Linked DNA regions of Homo sapiens. Changing the gene in region 4 together with the main gene of any one other region gives a genetic interaction. Each region holds a gene or a part of one and is shown on either strand. Other genes may lie near its edges.

The links.
Region 1: changes in FAM98B (region 4) and RPL28 together harm fitness less than expected from each alone (positive genetic interaction), as found in Homo sapiens cells (one large-scale study listed by BioGRID).
Region 2: changes in FAM98B (region 4) and EGFR together harm fitness more than expected from each alone (negative genetic interaction), as found in Homo sapiens cells (one large-scale study listed by BioGRID).
Region 3: changes in FAM98B (region 4) and ZNF574 together harm fitness less than expected from each alone (positive genetic interaction), as found in Homo sapiens cells (one large-scale study listed by BioGRID).

Annotation. Positions count from the first base shown.
Region 1 is NC_000019.10:55,384,603-55,388,731, forward strand, and holds the start of RPL28 (large ribosomal subunit protein eL28), read left to right. Parts: upstream 1-1,329; 5' UTR 1,330-1,363; intron 1,364-1,747; 5' UTR 1,748-1,755; coding exon 1,756-1,836; intron 1,837-1,967; coding exon 1,968-2,091; coding exon of another isoform or gene 2,092-2,150; exon of another isoform or gene 2,151-2,438; intron 2,439-2,682; coding exon of another isoform or gene 2,683-2,687; exon of another isoform or gene 2,688-3,117; intron 3,118-3,327; coding exon 3,328-3,446; coding exon of another isoform or gene 3,447-3,614; exon of another isoform or gene 3,615-3,640; coding exon 3,641-3,730; 3' UTR 3,731-4,129. UniProt on the Homo sapiens protein: Component of the large ribosomal subunit. The ribosome is a large ribonucleoprotein complex responsible for the synthesis of proteins in the cell.
Region 2 is NC_000007.14:55,158,517-55,162,016, forward strand, and holds part of EGFR (epidermal growth factor receptor isoform a precursor), read left to right. Parts: intron 1-1,622; coding exon 1,623-1,822; intron 1,823-2,982; coding exon 2,983-3,115; intron 3,116-3,500. UniProt on the Homo sapiens protein: Receptor tyrosine kinase binding ligands of the EGF family and activating several signaling cascades to convert extracellular cues into appropriate cellular responses.
Region 3 is NC_000019.10:42,074,850-42,078,965, forward strand, and holds the start of ZNF574 (zinc finger protein 574), read left to right. Parts: upstream 1-1,316; 5' UTR 1,317-1,437; intron 1,438-1,634; exon of another isoform or gene 1,635-1,655; intron 1,656-1,696; exon of another isoform or gene 1,697-1,761; intron 1,762-1,779; exon of another isoform or gene 1,780-3,510; intron 3,511-3,737; coding exon of another isoform or gene 3,738-3,757; coding exon 3,758-4,116. UniProt on the Homo sapiens protein: May be involved in transcriptional regulation.
Region 4 is NC_000015.10:38,467,627-38,471,126, forward strand, and holds part of FAM98B (protein FAM98B), read left to right. Parts: intron 1-2,600; coding exon 2,601-2,779; intron 2,780-3,500. UniProt on the Homo sapiens protein: Positively stimulates PRMT1-induced protein arginine dimethylated arginine methylation.

The DNA of each region.
Region 1 (4,129 bases), on a different chromosome or scaffold from region 4:
CCGAAGCCTGTGCAGATCAGACAGTGCAGATCAGACAAGGCCTTTAGACACCAAGGAGCTCTGGGACGCGAGAACCAGTAGTCGGGGTGATCTAAGAGGGGAAGCTCCGGGTTCCGCGGAAGCTGAGTTTCCTTCACTCAGCGCGTGTCTTCTGGGGTCTCCTGTGTTCAGCGAATGAAGCCACGGGCACAAGGACGGACGAGACCCATCAGGTCCAGAGCGCACCCGTGGAGGAAGCTGGGCGAACCCCGACTGTCCTATGGAGGATAGTCCTATGGACCAGACGAAGCCCCTGCCCCAAGGAGTGCCCGGGTGTAACCGCAAGTTAAGGAGCCCTGGGGAGGTGACACAGGCACCCTCATTCCTTTTGTTCAGTAGGAGTCTCTGAGGCCTCCCCAGCACCATGCCGCGTGGGTGAGGCCGAGGACACAGAGAAATATCAGGCAAGGCTCCTGCCCCCTTAGGGTGGCCCTGACAACGGATCATAACCTCCCAGGGAGCTGATGGGGTGTGACAGGCACACCATAGGCTGGAGGCACAGGTGGAGGGCAGGGAAGAGGACCGGCAAATCTATAGAATCCTAAAGGGAGCCAAGAGAAGCCACATGCAAATCTCCCTCCCTCCAAACAATTCTCCCTTAGAGGGCATCCGCGCTCCCCTGGGGTGGCAGTCAGCGAGAAGTTTCCGTGTAGGTTCTCCCCAGGCTTAAACAGTTTAAGAGTTTTATTTCAAGAAAACCCTGGGGAGGGCGAACTGCAAGAGGGCTGCCAGGATTAGCCGAGGGATTCCGAATGAAGACGGAGTATTTCCGAACATACACACCTCTCCCAAGAGCGTTTCCGGAGGGTTCCGAAAATACCCGAGCGGGCCTCGGCGCCCTCATTGGCCATCACCGCGAGGGCTTACGAAGACCGGAAATATCCAAAGGTGCCGGGGCTAGGCTTATATAGTTCACGCATTCACCAGTTCATTCATAAAACAAATGTTTGTTGAGCGCCCATCATATGCCAATCACAGTGACAAGTGCTGGGTGAGCAATACTGGAGAGATAACGCTGAGGTATGGGTCCCAGGACCTCTCGAATTGGAGCCACTCGGAAATCCAGCGGTAGAGTTTCGAAAACTTCCGAACGGTTCCCGGAATACGCTCTCGGCCCTCTAACCGAAGAGTTCCGAATATTCCCGAGCGTTGAGCGAATTTTCGGCGGAAGCAGCCGAACATCATCGAGCCGCCTCGGAGGTGGGGACCGACAACTCCTGTCGTGCCCGCCCGGAGAGGAAGCGGAAATGCGTGTACGGTATTAAAGGCGTCGCCTCGCCCCTCGCCTTCCTCTTTCCGTCTCAGGTCGCCGCTGCGAAGGGAGGTGAGCGTTCGTCTTCCTCGCGTGGTCGCCATCTCCGGCCCGCCGCGCACTCCCTCTCAGTCCTCTGCCTGCCTTCTCCCCTTGCGCCTCAAGGGTCATTGGCGGACCCCAACCCCTCCCCGTGAAGTCGTTGTGAATTTTCAAGTTATTTTCCCCTCACTCTCATTCGCCGCAGCTAGTCTCGGCTGCCTGAATTCGGTCCCGCCGCCTTAGGTCACTCAGTCCCGCCTGACAAGAGTTCTAGGTCGCTGTCTGCCCTCAGGGGTCTCCCATTCACCCAAGTTCCCAGTCGCTCTCTTCCTCTGCTGTCCGAGCGTGGCCCGTGGCCTAACGCTGCTTTAGTTCTCTGTGTCTGACGCTTTCCCTGTGCCCGTTTCCCCGCAGCCGCCGCCATGTCTGCGCATCTGCAATGGATGGTCGTGCGGAACTGCTCCAGTTTCCTGATCAAGAGGAATAAGCAGACCTACAGCACTGTAAGTGGGGCCCGGATGCGTGGCTCCTGCGGGAGGAGGGTCCTGAGTCTCTTGACTCTGGGTCAGAGGGCGGGACCTTCGCATGTCTCCGGGTCCCTTATTCACGATGCCTTGTGCCGCCTCCTTCCCAGGAGCCCAATAACTTGAAGGCCCGCAATTCCTTCCGCTACAACGGACTGATTCACCGCAAGACTGTGGGCGTGGAGCCGGCAGCCGACGGCAAAGGTGTCGTGGTGGTCATTAAGCGGAGATCCGGTGAGTTTTGTCTGGTTTGGGCCAGAGAGCGGCCCCTTTCCCGGGTCTGGGAGCTGTGATTTTTTACTGTCAGGCAGGAAGAGCGGTAACTGCCATCGCGGCGGGCATCCCTGGCGCCAGGGTGTTGGTCTGGGTACCGGCTTCCCTCTCGGCCGACTTGTCAGCTCTGTGAGCCGCGCGCGTCTGAGCCCGTGTCCTCACCTGTAAAGTGGAGAAATGAAAAAGGACCTGAACTTCCTCGGTGGTTGTTGAGAGTTAAGGCACGGGGTTGATGTTTTCAGATGAAATTCTCAAAGCAAGTCAGGGTGGGGATGGATGGTTTCATCCCACAGGTGGGAAGATTGAGGCACAACAGGGGAGGGGCCCTCGCTACCACACTTAGGAGGGGACAGGCTGGGTTGGTTGCAGCCATTTGATTCCCATTTTGCCTGTGTAGGTTAGAGAAGAGGTCTTGGGGACCCCACTCCATACATTGTGCTGTCAGGTGCAGGCCTTTTTGGGGATTCCCTGAATGTTCGTGTGAGTCGGGGGTCTCTAATGGAGGAGTCCAGCTTCACATGTGTTCTTGACAGGGCTGTATTTTCTTTTTAGAGTGAGTTTTTCTCAGGTCCTTGATTGGAACTGCCTCAGAGCCAAGGGTCCTTTTACTCAGTGGCAGCAACAAACGCAGTCTGTTGGCTAGTGATCCTCCTGTCTCAGGGACACGTAGTCCAGGGAGCAGCCAATTGCTTGGCACTTGGGGACCCCGTTCTGGGGAGTCCTGAAAGCTTTCACCTCTTGGATTGCCGAATACATGGGTGGCCCTTCCTAGACTAAGGGACTGGCCTGAGTGAGGCTGGGCCTCTCAGCCAAGCTGATGTTGAACCACTGCTGTGGGGATGGGCCTGGGGTTCCTGGGAAGCTGTTCATACCCATTGCCAGGAGCGTGGGCTCTGGCTGGACCTGGATCAGATCCTAACTGAAGCGGCAGCTTTCTGGCATGAGAAAGGAGTGTTTTCATGGTGGACAGAATTGGGCTATGAGTGTGGCAGAAGCTGTGTCCTCAGTACTCCGTGATGACGAGTGAGCCTCTGTGAAATGGACAGGTGGGAAAACAGCTACCTGCTGGCCTGCCCAGGCACCCGCCACGGGCCCACGCTGCTCAGCTTCTCAATGTGAGACTGTCCACACCTGCGAGGTGTGCTAAAGGTGCAGGTTAGGTGGACTGACCCCAGGACCTCCCTGACCCCCAACCAGGCCAGCGGAAGCCTGCCACCTCCTATGTGCGGACCACCATCAACAAGAATGCTCGCGCCACGCTCAGCAGCATCAGACACATGATCCGCAAGAACAAGTACCGCCCCGACCTGCGCATGGTGAGCTGGGGTTTGGGGATCAGGCTTGGGGAGACTGGCCAGTGCTGTGGGGAAGGGCCTCCCACTACTGGTTGCAATATGGGCTGGAGAGGGATGGATTCTTGCTTTCAGCCTACTCCCCACACCCAGCATTGGCCTAGGGGGCGGCTTGTGGAGTGTATGGGCTGAGCCTTGCTCTGCTCCCCCGCCCCCAGGCAGCCATCCGCAGGGCCAGCGCCATCCTGCGCAGCCAGAAGCCTGTGATGGTGAAGAGGAAGCGGACCCGCCCCACCAAGAGCTCCTGAGCCCCCTGCCCCCAGAGCAATAAAGTCAGCTGGCTTTCTCACCTGCCTCGACTGGGCCTCCCTTTTTGAAACGCTCTGGGGAGCTCTGGCCCTGTGTGTTGTCATTCAGGCCATGTCATCAAAACTCTGCATGTCACCTTGTCCATCTGGAGGTGATGTCAATGGCTGGCCATGCAGGAGGGGTGGGGTAGCTGCCTTGTCCCTGGTGAGGGCAAGGGTCACTGTCTTCACAGAAAAAGTTTGCTGACTTGTGATTGAGACCTACTGTCCCATTGTGAGGTGGCCTGAAGAATCCCAGCTGGGGCAGTGGCTTCCATTCAGAAGAAGAAAGGCCTTTTCTAGCCCAGAAGGGTGCAGGCTGAGGGCTGGGCCCTGGGCCCTGGTGCTGTAGCACGGTTT
Region 2 (3,500 bases), on a different chromosome or scaffold from region 4:
GTTGCTTCCCAGAAAGGCCTTTTTGCTCTGAATTCTCTGGAATGCTTTCTTTGACCAAGATTCTTATAAAAATAAGAGATTTAGAGCAATTTTCTTGGATGGCTGGTATGAGCCAGTTGGCTTAGTTGTAGGGATTTAAACAAGATAAGGGTTACTTACTTTTCACATTTAATGAGAAGTCTGGTGATTCCAGCTCCTACTGAGACAGGGTGGCCACACGTTCCAGGGTGTGACTCACTGAGGCCCCAGACCTGCCCTGCAAGGAAAACCTGGCTCTGCCCTGGTGTCCTGGCCTCCCTGGGCATATGTGGGGGAGAATTCCTAATGGTATTGGTTACAGGCTCCTATGCGAGACCACTCATCTGTGTAGGAGAAAGGAAAAAGATGGGGGAAAGAAGAGCAGCAGGGAGAGGAGAAGCCTCTGGATGATACTCTAACCCCCTGCCATCCAACACCTGAACATCAGTCTCTTCATCCAGTGCTCTCAGCTGGCCCAGCCCCCAGCCTGGGGTCAGATGAGAGCTTCCTGCAAATGCAGATCTCTTTCCTGTGGCTCCTTCTCAATTACAGACAGCTCCTCCACAAGGTGCACTCTGGCCTTGTGCTCCCTCCCCAAACCAGCCCAGCCCTCCCAGCCTGCATCATCGTGGTCCTGTAGGGGCTAGAGGTTCTCACACCCATCGTGGTCTGGCAGAGGCTGGTGGTTCTCACACCCATCGTGGTCCGGCAGGGGCTTAGTGGTTCTTATACCCATCGTGGTTCAGGAGGGGCTAGTGGTTCTCACACCCATCGTGGTCTGGCTGGGGCTAGTGGTTCTCATGTCCACCGCGTGCTTTCCTGCTCCTCCAGGTGGCTGAGGACATCCCCCCTTCGGTCTGAATGACTTCCATCCAGTCATCTGATATACACATTGGACCACCCAATAGCATCCTAGTGTCATGTTGGATGGTGAAGAAAATGCCACAGTTACTGCTTTCAGGGCCTCACAACCTTGGGCATAGCTTTTTGGAGGAAGGCCCCACTTCCCAGGCATCCCTCCCAGACCTGGTCAGAGGCCCCTGCTCTTTGCTTCCATGTTGCCCACACTCACTGTGCTCTTCACACCGGCTCAAAATGATCTGCTTACGGGGTTGTGTCACCACCAGATCAAGCGTCCTGGAGAGGAGGAAACATATTTAACCTGCACAGAATTTGGGACAGAGAACCTCTAGTGTTTGTTCAATAAATATATGAATGGATAGAGGGACAGGTTGGGTGGTGGATAGATGGATGAACCCACACCTTTGAAGTGTATTTGGCTGTTTGAGAGGTTAGAATATGTTCTCAATTTCCAGGCAAAATGAAAATGGAGAAAATATAATGACATTAAGGCATTTTATTCATCCTCCCCATCTGCCACTGGGTTAAAGATACTAAATAAACAAGGAACTATCTTTTGCCTGGAGGAACTTTAAAAACACCTGCAGTTTTCAAAAGGTGCAGTGTGTGCCTCCCACAGCATGACCTACCATCATTGGAAAGCAGTTTGTAGTCAATCAAAGGTGGTCTGGAGAAACAAAGTTTTCAGGGATACATTGTTTTTATAATTTTTCACCACATGATTTTTCTTCTCTCCAATGTAGTGGTCAGTTTTCTCTTGCAGTCGTCAGCCTGAACATAACATCCTTGGGATTACGCTCCCTCAAGGAGATAAGTGATGGAGATGTGATAATTTCAGGAAACAAAAATTTGTGCTATGCAAATACAATAAACTGGAAAAAACTGTTTGGGACCTCCGGTCAGAAAACCAAAATTATAAGCAACAGAGGTGAAAACAGCTGCAGTAAGTCACCGCTTTCTGTTTAGTTTATGGAGTTGGTTCTAATGGGTCCTTTATTTGTATTTAGAATATTGAAGGGCTATTCCCATTTAAATTACTTTTTTCAGTTCCTTAAGAAGCAAATTAAAATCTTAAGATTCCTAACTGTGAAATTACCATGTGAATTCCATTAAAACTTTTTCCAGATCATTACCATTCAATGGGATGAATTTACCCTGAGGTTTAGGCTACCAATTATTTGTAATGTAAGTAACTAAATTTAGTATTAGTTATATTACCTTTTAGTTGTAGGTCACTCTCTGCTCATTTCAGCCTGTAAAGACTACAGCTACACACATACACACACAGAGGAATGGAATGAGCACTTTACATCAACACTTCCTGTTCTGGCTCTAGAGCCTCAGCTTTTGAAGCTGGTGAGAGCCTGGCCTGTGCTGGGCCTTGGCCACGGGCAGCGTCAGCTTTGAGTCAAGTGCTGGTCTGGCCTCCCTAGCTTTGAGCCTCTGTCAATTCCCTTAATCTGTTTAGGCTTTGGCTTCCTCATCCATAGAATGGAGATATGAATGATTCCTACGCCGTAGTGCTTTGAGAGAATTCAGTGAAATTCCTGTGTGTAAAACCCTTCCATGGTGCCTAGCACACAGCACACAGCCAATGGCCCAATGGCTCCTATCAGCTGTGGGATTTGTCATCAGAACACCACCAGCTCTGCTCCAGGCTGCCCTGGGTACCATCAAAACACACCCTGTGCCCAGCAGCACCTGCTCCTCTGCACACCTGGTTCCTTCAGCAGGGGCAGTGGCCGTGGGAGCACAGAAAACATGGAGTCCCATCTGGTTTAATTGATGCCATTGCCAAAGGGGAGGACTCACGGCACCCCCTCTCGGGTGCCAGGGTGCCTGGCTCCCACCAGGAGGAAGACCTGTCCTCCACTGTCAGGCACATTTCAGTCTTCCCAGCAGCCAGCACAACTACTTTGTCCTTCCAGTCACGGTCGGCCTCTGGGAAGCCCAGTCTGTGTCCTCCTCCTTCAGGGGTAGCCAGCATGTCTGTGTCACCCAAGGTCATGGAGCACAGGGCCCCTCCCGGGAAGGTGCCGTCTCCTCCGGCCCCTCGGGTCCCTGCTCTGTCACTGACTGCTGTGACCCACTCTGTCTCCGCAGAGGCCACAGGCCAGGTCTGCCATGCCTTGTGCTCCCCCGAGGGCTGCTGGGGCCCGGAGCCCAGGGACTGCGTCTCTTGCCGGAATGTCAGCCGAGGCAGGGAATGCGTGGACAAGTGCAACCTTCTGGAGGGGTAGGAGGTTATTTCTTTAATCCCCTTGCGTTGATCAAAAATAAGGCTCCAGGTTGTTGTTATAGCTTTACAGGCATTCTGTTTGATTTTCTCTTCCTTTTATTCTTTGCCCTTGGCTTTTGGAGGTTTTGGGTTTTCTGTGGGGAGACGGGAAGTTGTTTGATTGCGTTATTTTTGGCAAATTTAAGCACAATAGGAAATAAGCAAGTATTATTGCCTAATATAATCCAATAATTTATAGAATCTCTTTTCCTGGAAGTATCTTAAATTTTTCTAAGCTACAAAAAGTTCCTAAGACAAATGAGACAGTCATCAATGGTTCATCTAGCCAACACCGTGGCCATTTGGGCTTTTCTTTGTAGTGCCCGATTCCTGGTGTGTGAAA
Region 3 (4,116 bases), on a different chromosome or scaffold from region 4:
CCTCTGTGTTTGGGTTCAAGGAGTAGGTCTGGAAATGTTTCTTTTCTTCTTTCAGATGGAGTCTCGCTCTGTCGCCCAGGCGGGAGTGCAGTGGCGTGATCTCGGCTCACTGCAACCTCGGCCTCCTGGGTGCAATCAAATCTCGAGCCTCAGCCTCCCGAGTTGCTGGGGTTACAGGCACGAGCCACCACGCCCAGCTAATGTTTTGTATTTTTAGTAAAGATGGTAGTTTCACCAGGTTGGCCAGGTGGGTCTCGAATGCCTGACTTCAAGTGAACCCGCCTCAGCGTCCCAAAATGTTGGGATTGCAGGCGTGAGCCACCACGCCCAGCCTGGAAACGTTTCTAACAGTACTGGGGCAACTCCCTCCCAAGGCCCTGAGGGGCGCAGGAACGAGGTGAGTAGGAATGGCCAGAGCCCCTTGGACACATGGGGCCCCAATCTCGAGGTGTAAGGGTCAGAGTCACCCCGGAAGGAGGTGGAGTGGAGTCCGCCCGTTACCGGCTCACTTCCTTCAGGCTCTCACCCCGATTGTCCTTCAGGTCCTCTACCCACCACACTCCCTATTTCTTCCAATGAAATTGTCCCTGCTTCTTTTTCTCCATATCCTCGCTCTCCTTGCTTCCCCTATGACATTTCTCCTCTCTCCACCTCCCAAAAGTCCCCTCGGTCTTTTCTCTGTTTCTTCCTGTTGCCTTCATTCCCCTCCTTTTAATAAAGTGAGTCTGGAACCTTGGTTTCCCTTTTCTCTCTCCATGTGACTGGTGCTGCATGCAGTTTGCCCTCTCCCCATCGCGCTAAGTGGTTTCACTTTCTCCCTCTGACCCTCGGGGAAACCACAAAGGTTCCCGTGCCTCCATTCCCCCGCTCCAGCCCTCAAGGTGCCGCGTGCCTCAATTTCCCAGGCTCTTTTCCTCCCTCTCCCTGTCCCCAACGCTGACTCCCTCACGGCGTCCCCAAAATGGCGCCCGCGGCCGCGCTCCGCCGCCTAACGTCATCGCGCCGCCCTCCGCTCAGAGTTCCCCTCTGGAGCCGTCGGAGGCGGAGTCGAGGAGGAGGAGGAGCATCCTCTAAGGAGGATTAAAGGGGCGGGCACTATCCACCCGAGGGCTGACCGGTGAGGGAACGACGCTAAAGGATTGGTTGGGCGCTGCGGGGAATCTCGACGCTCCTCACTATTGGCCCAAGCCTCAGAGACATGAACGTCGATTGGCCGAACGGCAGGGCCCGAGCGGGCAATGATTGGTTGCGTCCGGCCGTCCGTGCGGCGGCCGAGGAGGAAGGTGGGAGGGGCGTTGCTGAGGGTAGCTGGGGGCGAGAGCGAGGCTACGGAGCAGGCGAGAGGCGACGGCGAGAGCTAGAGCGGGCGCAGCGTTAGGGTGGCCGTGCAAGGGGAGCCGTGGCCCGGGCCCGGGGCGTGCGAGACGGCGGAAGCAGGTGAGCGCGAGCGGGCGCGCAGAGGCCGGCCGGGCTGCGCTCCCTGCCGCCGCGGCCTCCTCTTGCCAGGTCGCCTGCGCACTGAGGGCCTGAGGGGGTGCGCGCCGGGCAGTTAGGGCGGAGCGGCACCAACGGCCGACCCGGCGCGCGGGCAGCCGGGCGGGGGCCGGGCTGGAGCGGCGGGTGGGGAAGGGGCCTGGAGTCGCGTGCGGGGCTGAGTGAGGAGGGGCGGGGCTCGGGCTGAGGCTTTGGTGGGGCACCTGGGCGGGAAGGGGAGGCCTCAGAGCTGTCCCAAGAGGGCTCCGCGGCTCCCCAGGGTTTGGGGTAAAGGACTTGGTGGTGTGGCAAGTCCAGGACGAAGGGGCTGGGCCGGTTAGACGGCACGTGGGTGCCCAGTTAGGGGCTTAGGGCGTGAGAAAGATAATTAAGTTAATGCAGGGGAAAAATATCTAGTTCTTCCTGGAAAGAATTGGGGCGGTGAGAGGGGTTTTGGTGTGAAGACATTAGGAAATCGATATCCCCAAGGGAACGGTTTAGAGCTAAGGAGGGGTCCAGTTGTAATGGATGGGGTTAAATTAATGTGAAGAGGCCTTAAACCAATGTGTCAGGAGGTTGGGTACCCTTGGAATGCGTGGAAAGGAGTCTTTGTACAAAGAAGGATTAAGTGTATTTTAAAAGGGTGTCTGGGTGTCCCTAGAATGAGCTGGGGAAGGTAGTCTTTTTTAAGTACAGGTAATTAGGCCAAGGTGAAGATGGGATTTGGTTATTGGAAGGGGAGGAAGTAGGGTGGGAGAGATCTGTGTGCTAAAGTGAGGGGTGCCTGGGAATTCCTGGAATGAGACTGAGAGGTTGCTAAGACGCTGGGGGGTCTGAGTACCCCCAGAATAGGAGGCTGGTGAGAGGGGCTTGAGTGTGAGGAAGAGGGGTCTGTGCTGGATTAAGGTGGTGATGGAGGTTCTGTATGAGAATAGGAGGTCCGGGTATCCCTAAAGGGGGTTTGGGCAGCACGAGGGGTGTGTGTAAAAGGAGCTTAAGCCATTGTGAAAGATGGGTGTGTGGATCTTTACACAAAGAAGAGGAGTTATGTTGCTACGAAGAGGAGGGTCTGAGCATCCCTAGAATGGGTTAGGGTGGGTTGGGTCTTCTAGCAAATTAAAAAAGATTAGGTTAATAATGTGGAGGAGGATCTGGATATTCCTGAGATGGATTTGAGGGGGGGCTCTGTTTGCAAGAGAGGCATAGGTTGATATAAAATGAGGGTATGGGCATCCCTGAATGAGTGGCTGTGTATGAACAGGAAGGGTTTAAATCAATGGGAAGAGGGGATCTGGGTATCTCAGAGGGGATTAGAATTGTCGATTTGGTCTTGGTACAAAGAAGAGGTGATGAATGTAAAGAGTGGATAGATACCCTGGAGACAGGAGCTAGGGTGGTGGAAGGGCCTAGGTCCGAAGCGGGGAGGAGTAGGCTTTTGTGAAAATGGGTCTGGGTATTCTGGATAGGGGGTTAGGGTTGTAGGAGAGGGCCTTGATTTGTAGAGGAGGTTAAGTAATTAAACAGGGCTGCGTATCATGAAGTGGTTAAGGTGGGCAAAGTCTGGGTGTGGAGATGGGTTAGGCCAGTGTGAGAAAATTTGACTGGGGGGAAGGGATATAGTTTGACGTGAGGAATCTGGGCACCTGAGGAAGAGTTGGTGGGTAGCAGGGGTTGCGTGTAAAGGGGAGGGGTGGCACCTTGTACAGTGCTGAAAGTGGAGTGGTGGGGCATTGGGCAGTTTGAGTGGTCTGAGTGTAAAAAGAAGTCTGAGAACCTGGGAGAAGGAGCAGAGGCCATGGGAGGGGTGTGGCTGGGAGAAACAGGTGGGGAAGGCCTATATGGGGTTTCAGTTGGGTACCTTGGAGAGGAATGGGGTGAGGTGAGTTGGTAAGAAAAGGAGTCAGTGGAAGGAGGTCTGAGTGGAGGTTCCCATGTGCTGGGCGGAACTGTGGGGCCCACTGTGAGGTGTGGGAGATGAGGGGACTGGACAGGTTACAAGGATCTGGTGGGTGGAGTTTGATGCAAGTTGATACAGAGGTGAGACTGTGGGTAAATTCCTGGGGAAGGGACTGCCTGGGAGATTTGTGTTTGGTGTTTGTTATGCTGAGGGGAGGAAGGATTATTGGGAGGGAGGCAGAATTTTAAAAATCGAAGGAAGAACTTAAGGGGGTGTAGATCTAAGGTATTAGGAGTGGAGAGTGATGAAGGGAAGAGCTGAGGAATCGGTGACCTAACTGGTTTGTCCCCACTGTCTCCTCTTCCAGCCCAGGGCCTTGCTGCCGCCATGACTGAGGAATCAGAGGAGACAGTCCTGTACATTGAGCACCGCTATGTCTGCTCTGAGTGCAACCAGCTGTATGGATCACTGGAAGAGGTGCTTATGCACCAAAACTCCCACGTGCCCCAGCAGCACTTTGAGCTGGTGGGCGTGGCTGATCCCGGAGTCACTGTGGCCACAGACACAGCTTCAGGCACGGGCCTCTATCAGACCCTTGTGCAGGAGAGCCAGTACCAGTGCCTGGAGTGTGGTCAACTGCTGATGTCACCCAGCCAGCTCCTGGAGCACCAGGAGCTGCACCTGAAGATGATGGCACCCCAGGAGGCAGTGCCAGCTGAGCCATCACCTAAGGCACCACCCCTGAG
Region 4 (3,500 bases):
TTGGCAATTCTTTTGACTTGGCAATTGTTTGTCTATGAATATATATCTATTTCCCCAAGTGTACAAAGATAAATGAAAACCATGTTCATTATGACATTGTAGTAATAAAAAGACCAGAAACCTGAGTGTCCATAAATATAGATAAATAGAAGTGGTACATTAATGCAGTGATGTCACTAGATAGGTAATAGGAAGAATGCAGATAAATCAAATGTGCTGATGTGGAATGATCTCTAAGATATGTTGGTAAATACAAAATAAATATACAGGACATGTATAGCATGTTCTTGTTTGTATAAAAGGAACAAACGCACACAGATGGCTACTAGGTATCTTGAATACATACACACACACATGCCTAAAAGGATACCCAAGAAATTAATGGTGATTGCCTCTGGGAAGGGGGAATCTAAGGATCTGCAAAAGGAAGAAGGCTTAATTTTCCCTCTACTGCTTACTATCTGCATGGATTAGCATCGTAAATGCTAAACCCTTGTTTGTACTATTACATGGAGAAAGCATGTTTCCATAGAGCAAAAGTAGACTTCAGCCAAGGTTCTGTCTAAAATATAAATTTTTGAAAAACTGGCAATCTGTTTTAATCAAGTTTAATCAAGTTTTTATTATGAGATGGGGTCTCACTGTGTTGCCCAGGCTGGAGTGTGATGGTGCGATTGTAGCCCCTCAAACTCTGGAGCTCAAGCGATCCTCTCATCTCAGCCTGCATAACTGGGACTACAGGCGTACACCACCATGCCTAGCAAATTTTTAAAAAATATTTTGTAAAGATGGGTCTGTGTTGCCCAGGTAGGTCTTAAACTCCTGGGCCCAAGCTGTCCTCCTACCTTAGCCTCCCAAAATACTGGGATTACAGGCCTGAGCCACCATAGCTGGTCTTAATGAAGTTTTTAAGTCAGAAGGACCTTAGTATAGTCCTCATAAGGAAAGTTTAATATTGGTCTTAAAGTTTAATAATTGATCTTAATATTTTGGTACTTGACTCTTTAAACTGTCATGTGTAGACTGCATGGAAAAGTCTTTAAACCAGTGACCCTCAATCTTGCCTGACCTTGGCAATCATACTGGGTCTAAAACAAACCACACACAGATGCCCAACTCCTACTTGTAGATCTACTGTTCAGAATCTCAGAGGATGGGACCCTGGCACCTGTACTTTTAAATTGTTTTTCAGATGTATTTTTGCTCAGCTGAAGTTAAAACTGCTATATTAAATTGTGGCGTTTGTGTCTAATTTTAACTAAACAAATAAAAACAAAGTATTTATTTATGTATTTTTTGAGATGGAATCTTGATCTGTCACCCAGGCTGGAGTGCAATGGCACGATCTCGATTCAGTGCAACCTTCGCCTCTGGGTTCAAGCAATTCTCCTGCCTCAGCCTCCCTAGTAGCTGGGACTACAGGCGCATGCTGCCATGCCTGGCTAATTTTTGTACTTTTAGTAGAGTCGGGGTTTCACCATGTTGGCCAAGCTGGTCTTAAGCTTCTGACCTCGGGTAATCTGCCTGCTTCAGCTTCCCAAAGTGCTGGGATTATAGGTGTGAGCCACCACTCCCAGCCAAAAACAAAGTCTTACCTACCGTAGTGAAGAGTCTGTTTAAAACAAGACTATAATCATTTAAGATTTTTGAGTAATTTTCTTAAATATGGCTATTGAAAGGATTAGATGAAACGGTGAAAGTAAAGGGACTTGTAAACAGTTTGGGGTGATTTATCCTGACTCAAATTGCTCTATGTGCTTATATATCAGTTAGAGCTATATGTTCTCCCCTGACCTGTGTGCTCTGTACATATAAGACAGAGAATAATTTATCAGAGTCTTACACATTCTTGTCTGTTCTTAAATTGTTGATTTGGTGGTGGGTCTCAACTACTGGATTTTATACTCTTTGAGGGTAGGCATCATATCTTCCTTGACTTGGCATCCCCATTGTTCACACCGTTCCTGGCTCAGAACAGGTCCTTGGTAGACATGTACTTACTGAAATAGCAATCTAGATCATTTAATATGTTAATTAAAATTGAACTGAAACCAGCTAGTGTGAAATCGAAGAGAATAAAATAAACCATTTCTCTTTTTCCTGGTAGTATTAAATAAATTCATTTTAGTTTTTTGCTTGTAGTGCCCTTTTTTTTTTTGTACCCATTCATCTGTTTCAAACTAAGTCTTAGGTTAAACCTCTCTAGGTAAAGTAGATGAAAGTTACGCTGCTGTTTTCTGGGGGCCTGTATCTTTGCCTGCTTAACTCCAGTAGGAGCTGCTAGGGCTCCTCCGGTGTGAAAAGAATCAACCATTTAAAGTGGCATTTACAGTGTAAATGCATTTAATAGGGTGTCTATTTTATATAGCTTTAGTTAGTTGTTTTTTCTCATTTCATTTAAAAAAACGTAACACTTGCTATGGACTAGGGAATCACTTCGTTTATAAGTGTACAGTGTTCTACAACTGTTGTTCTTTGGGTCTTTGTAAGTTGGCATTATTGGTATTAATTGATACTTGTTTTAAGTGAATAATTTCAGTGAAATATTTCAAGAGATTCTTATACATGTATTAACATTATTTATTTTCTCTTTATTGTAGTATTTTTAAGTACAGAACTTCAAGCTTCACAGATATTACAGAACAAGAAACATAAAAATTCTCAATTAGATAAAAATAGTGAAGTTTATCAGGAAGTTCAAGCTATGTTTGATACACTTGGTATACCCAAGTCAACAACTTCTGACATTCCGCATATGCTAAACCAAGTGGAATCAAAGGTATTATCTTTGTTTTATTTTCCCCAAAATTCAACTGAATGGTAACATGTAAGTGCTATATTAAAAATGAAACTATTCCCTATAATTATGAGGTATACATTTTATTTCAAGAGTTTATCTTCATATAAACCCAGTTTTGGATTCAGACTTAACAGGCATGTGACCTAATCTGTCAGTAGCTGATATTCAGGAATCAAATCTTAATGAGTTACTGGCCTTCAGCTTTGCCAGAGTTTACCATGATAGAAATCACTTAGCAAATTTAAGGATCACTTTCTTAACCAGGGTTTTAATGTAGTATAAGAAAGAAAGAAAGAAGTAGAAGTAGAGTTATCCTACAAAGTGAAAGGAAACTAAACTTTTTAAAAAATGGATGTTAATAGAATTGCAGAGTGGTTTCTTTGGCAGTGAGCATGCAGTTTTTGGTGGATAAATGTTTAGTAAGAGTAAGTGCATTATATAATGAATGGAAGAATGTATTAATTAGTACCCTGATGGGGGTAGTTAAAAACAACTACAAACTATGTACCTTATGTACTTTGGCATTTTTTTTTTTTTCAGTTACTAAGCAACTCTTGTTCCCTGTCAAGCCATATATTAGAGAGGATGCTACTCTCACAGACCAAATTCTGGCCTAGTTCCTGGGTTTCATTTGTTAAATATGCAGTCCTCTAGGGGAAGAATACAGGATTCATTTTAAAGGAAAATAAAATTCTTGCCT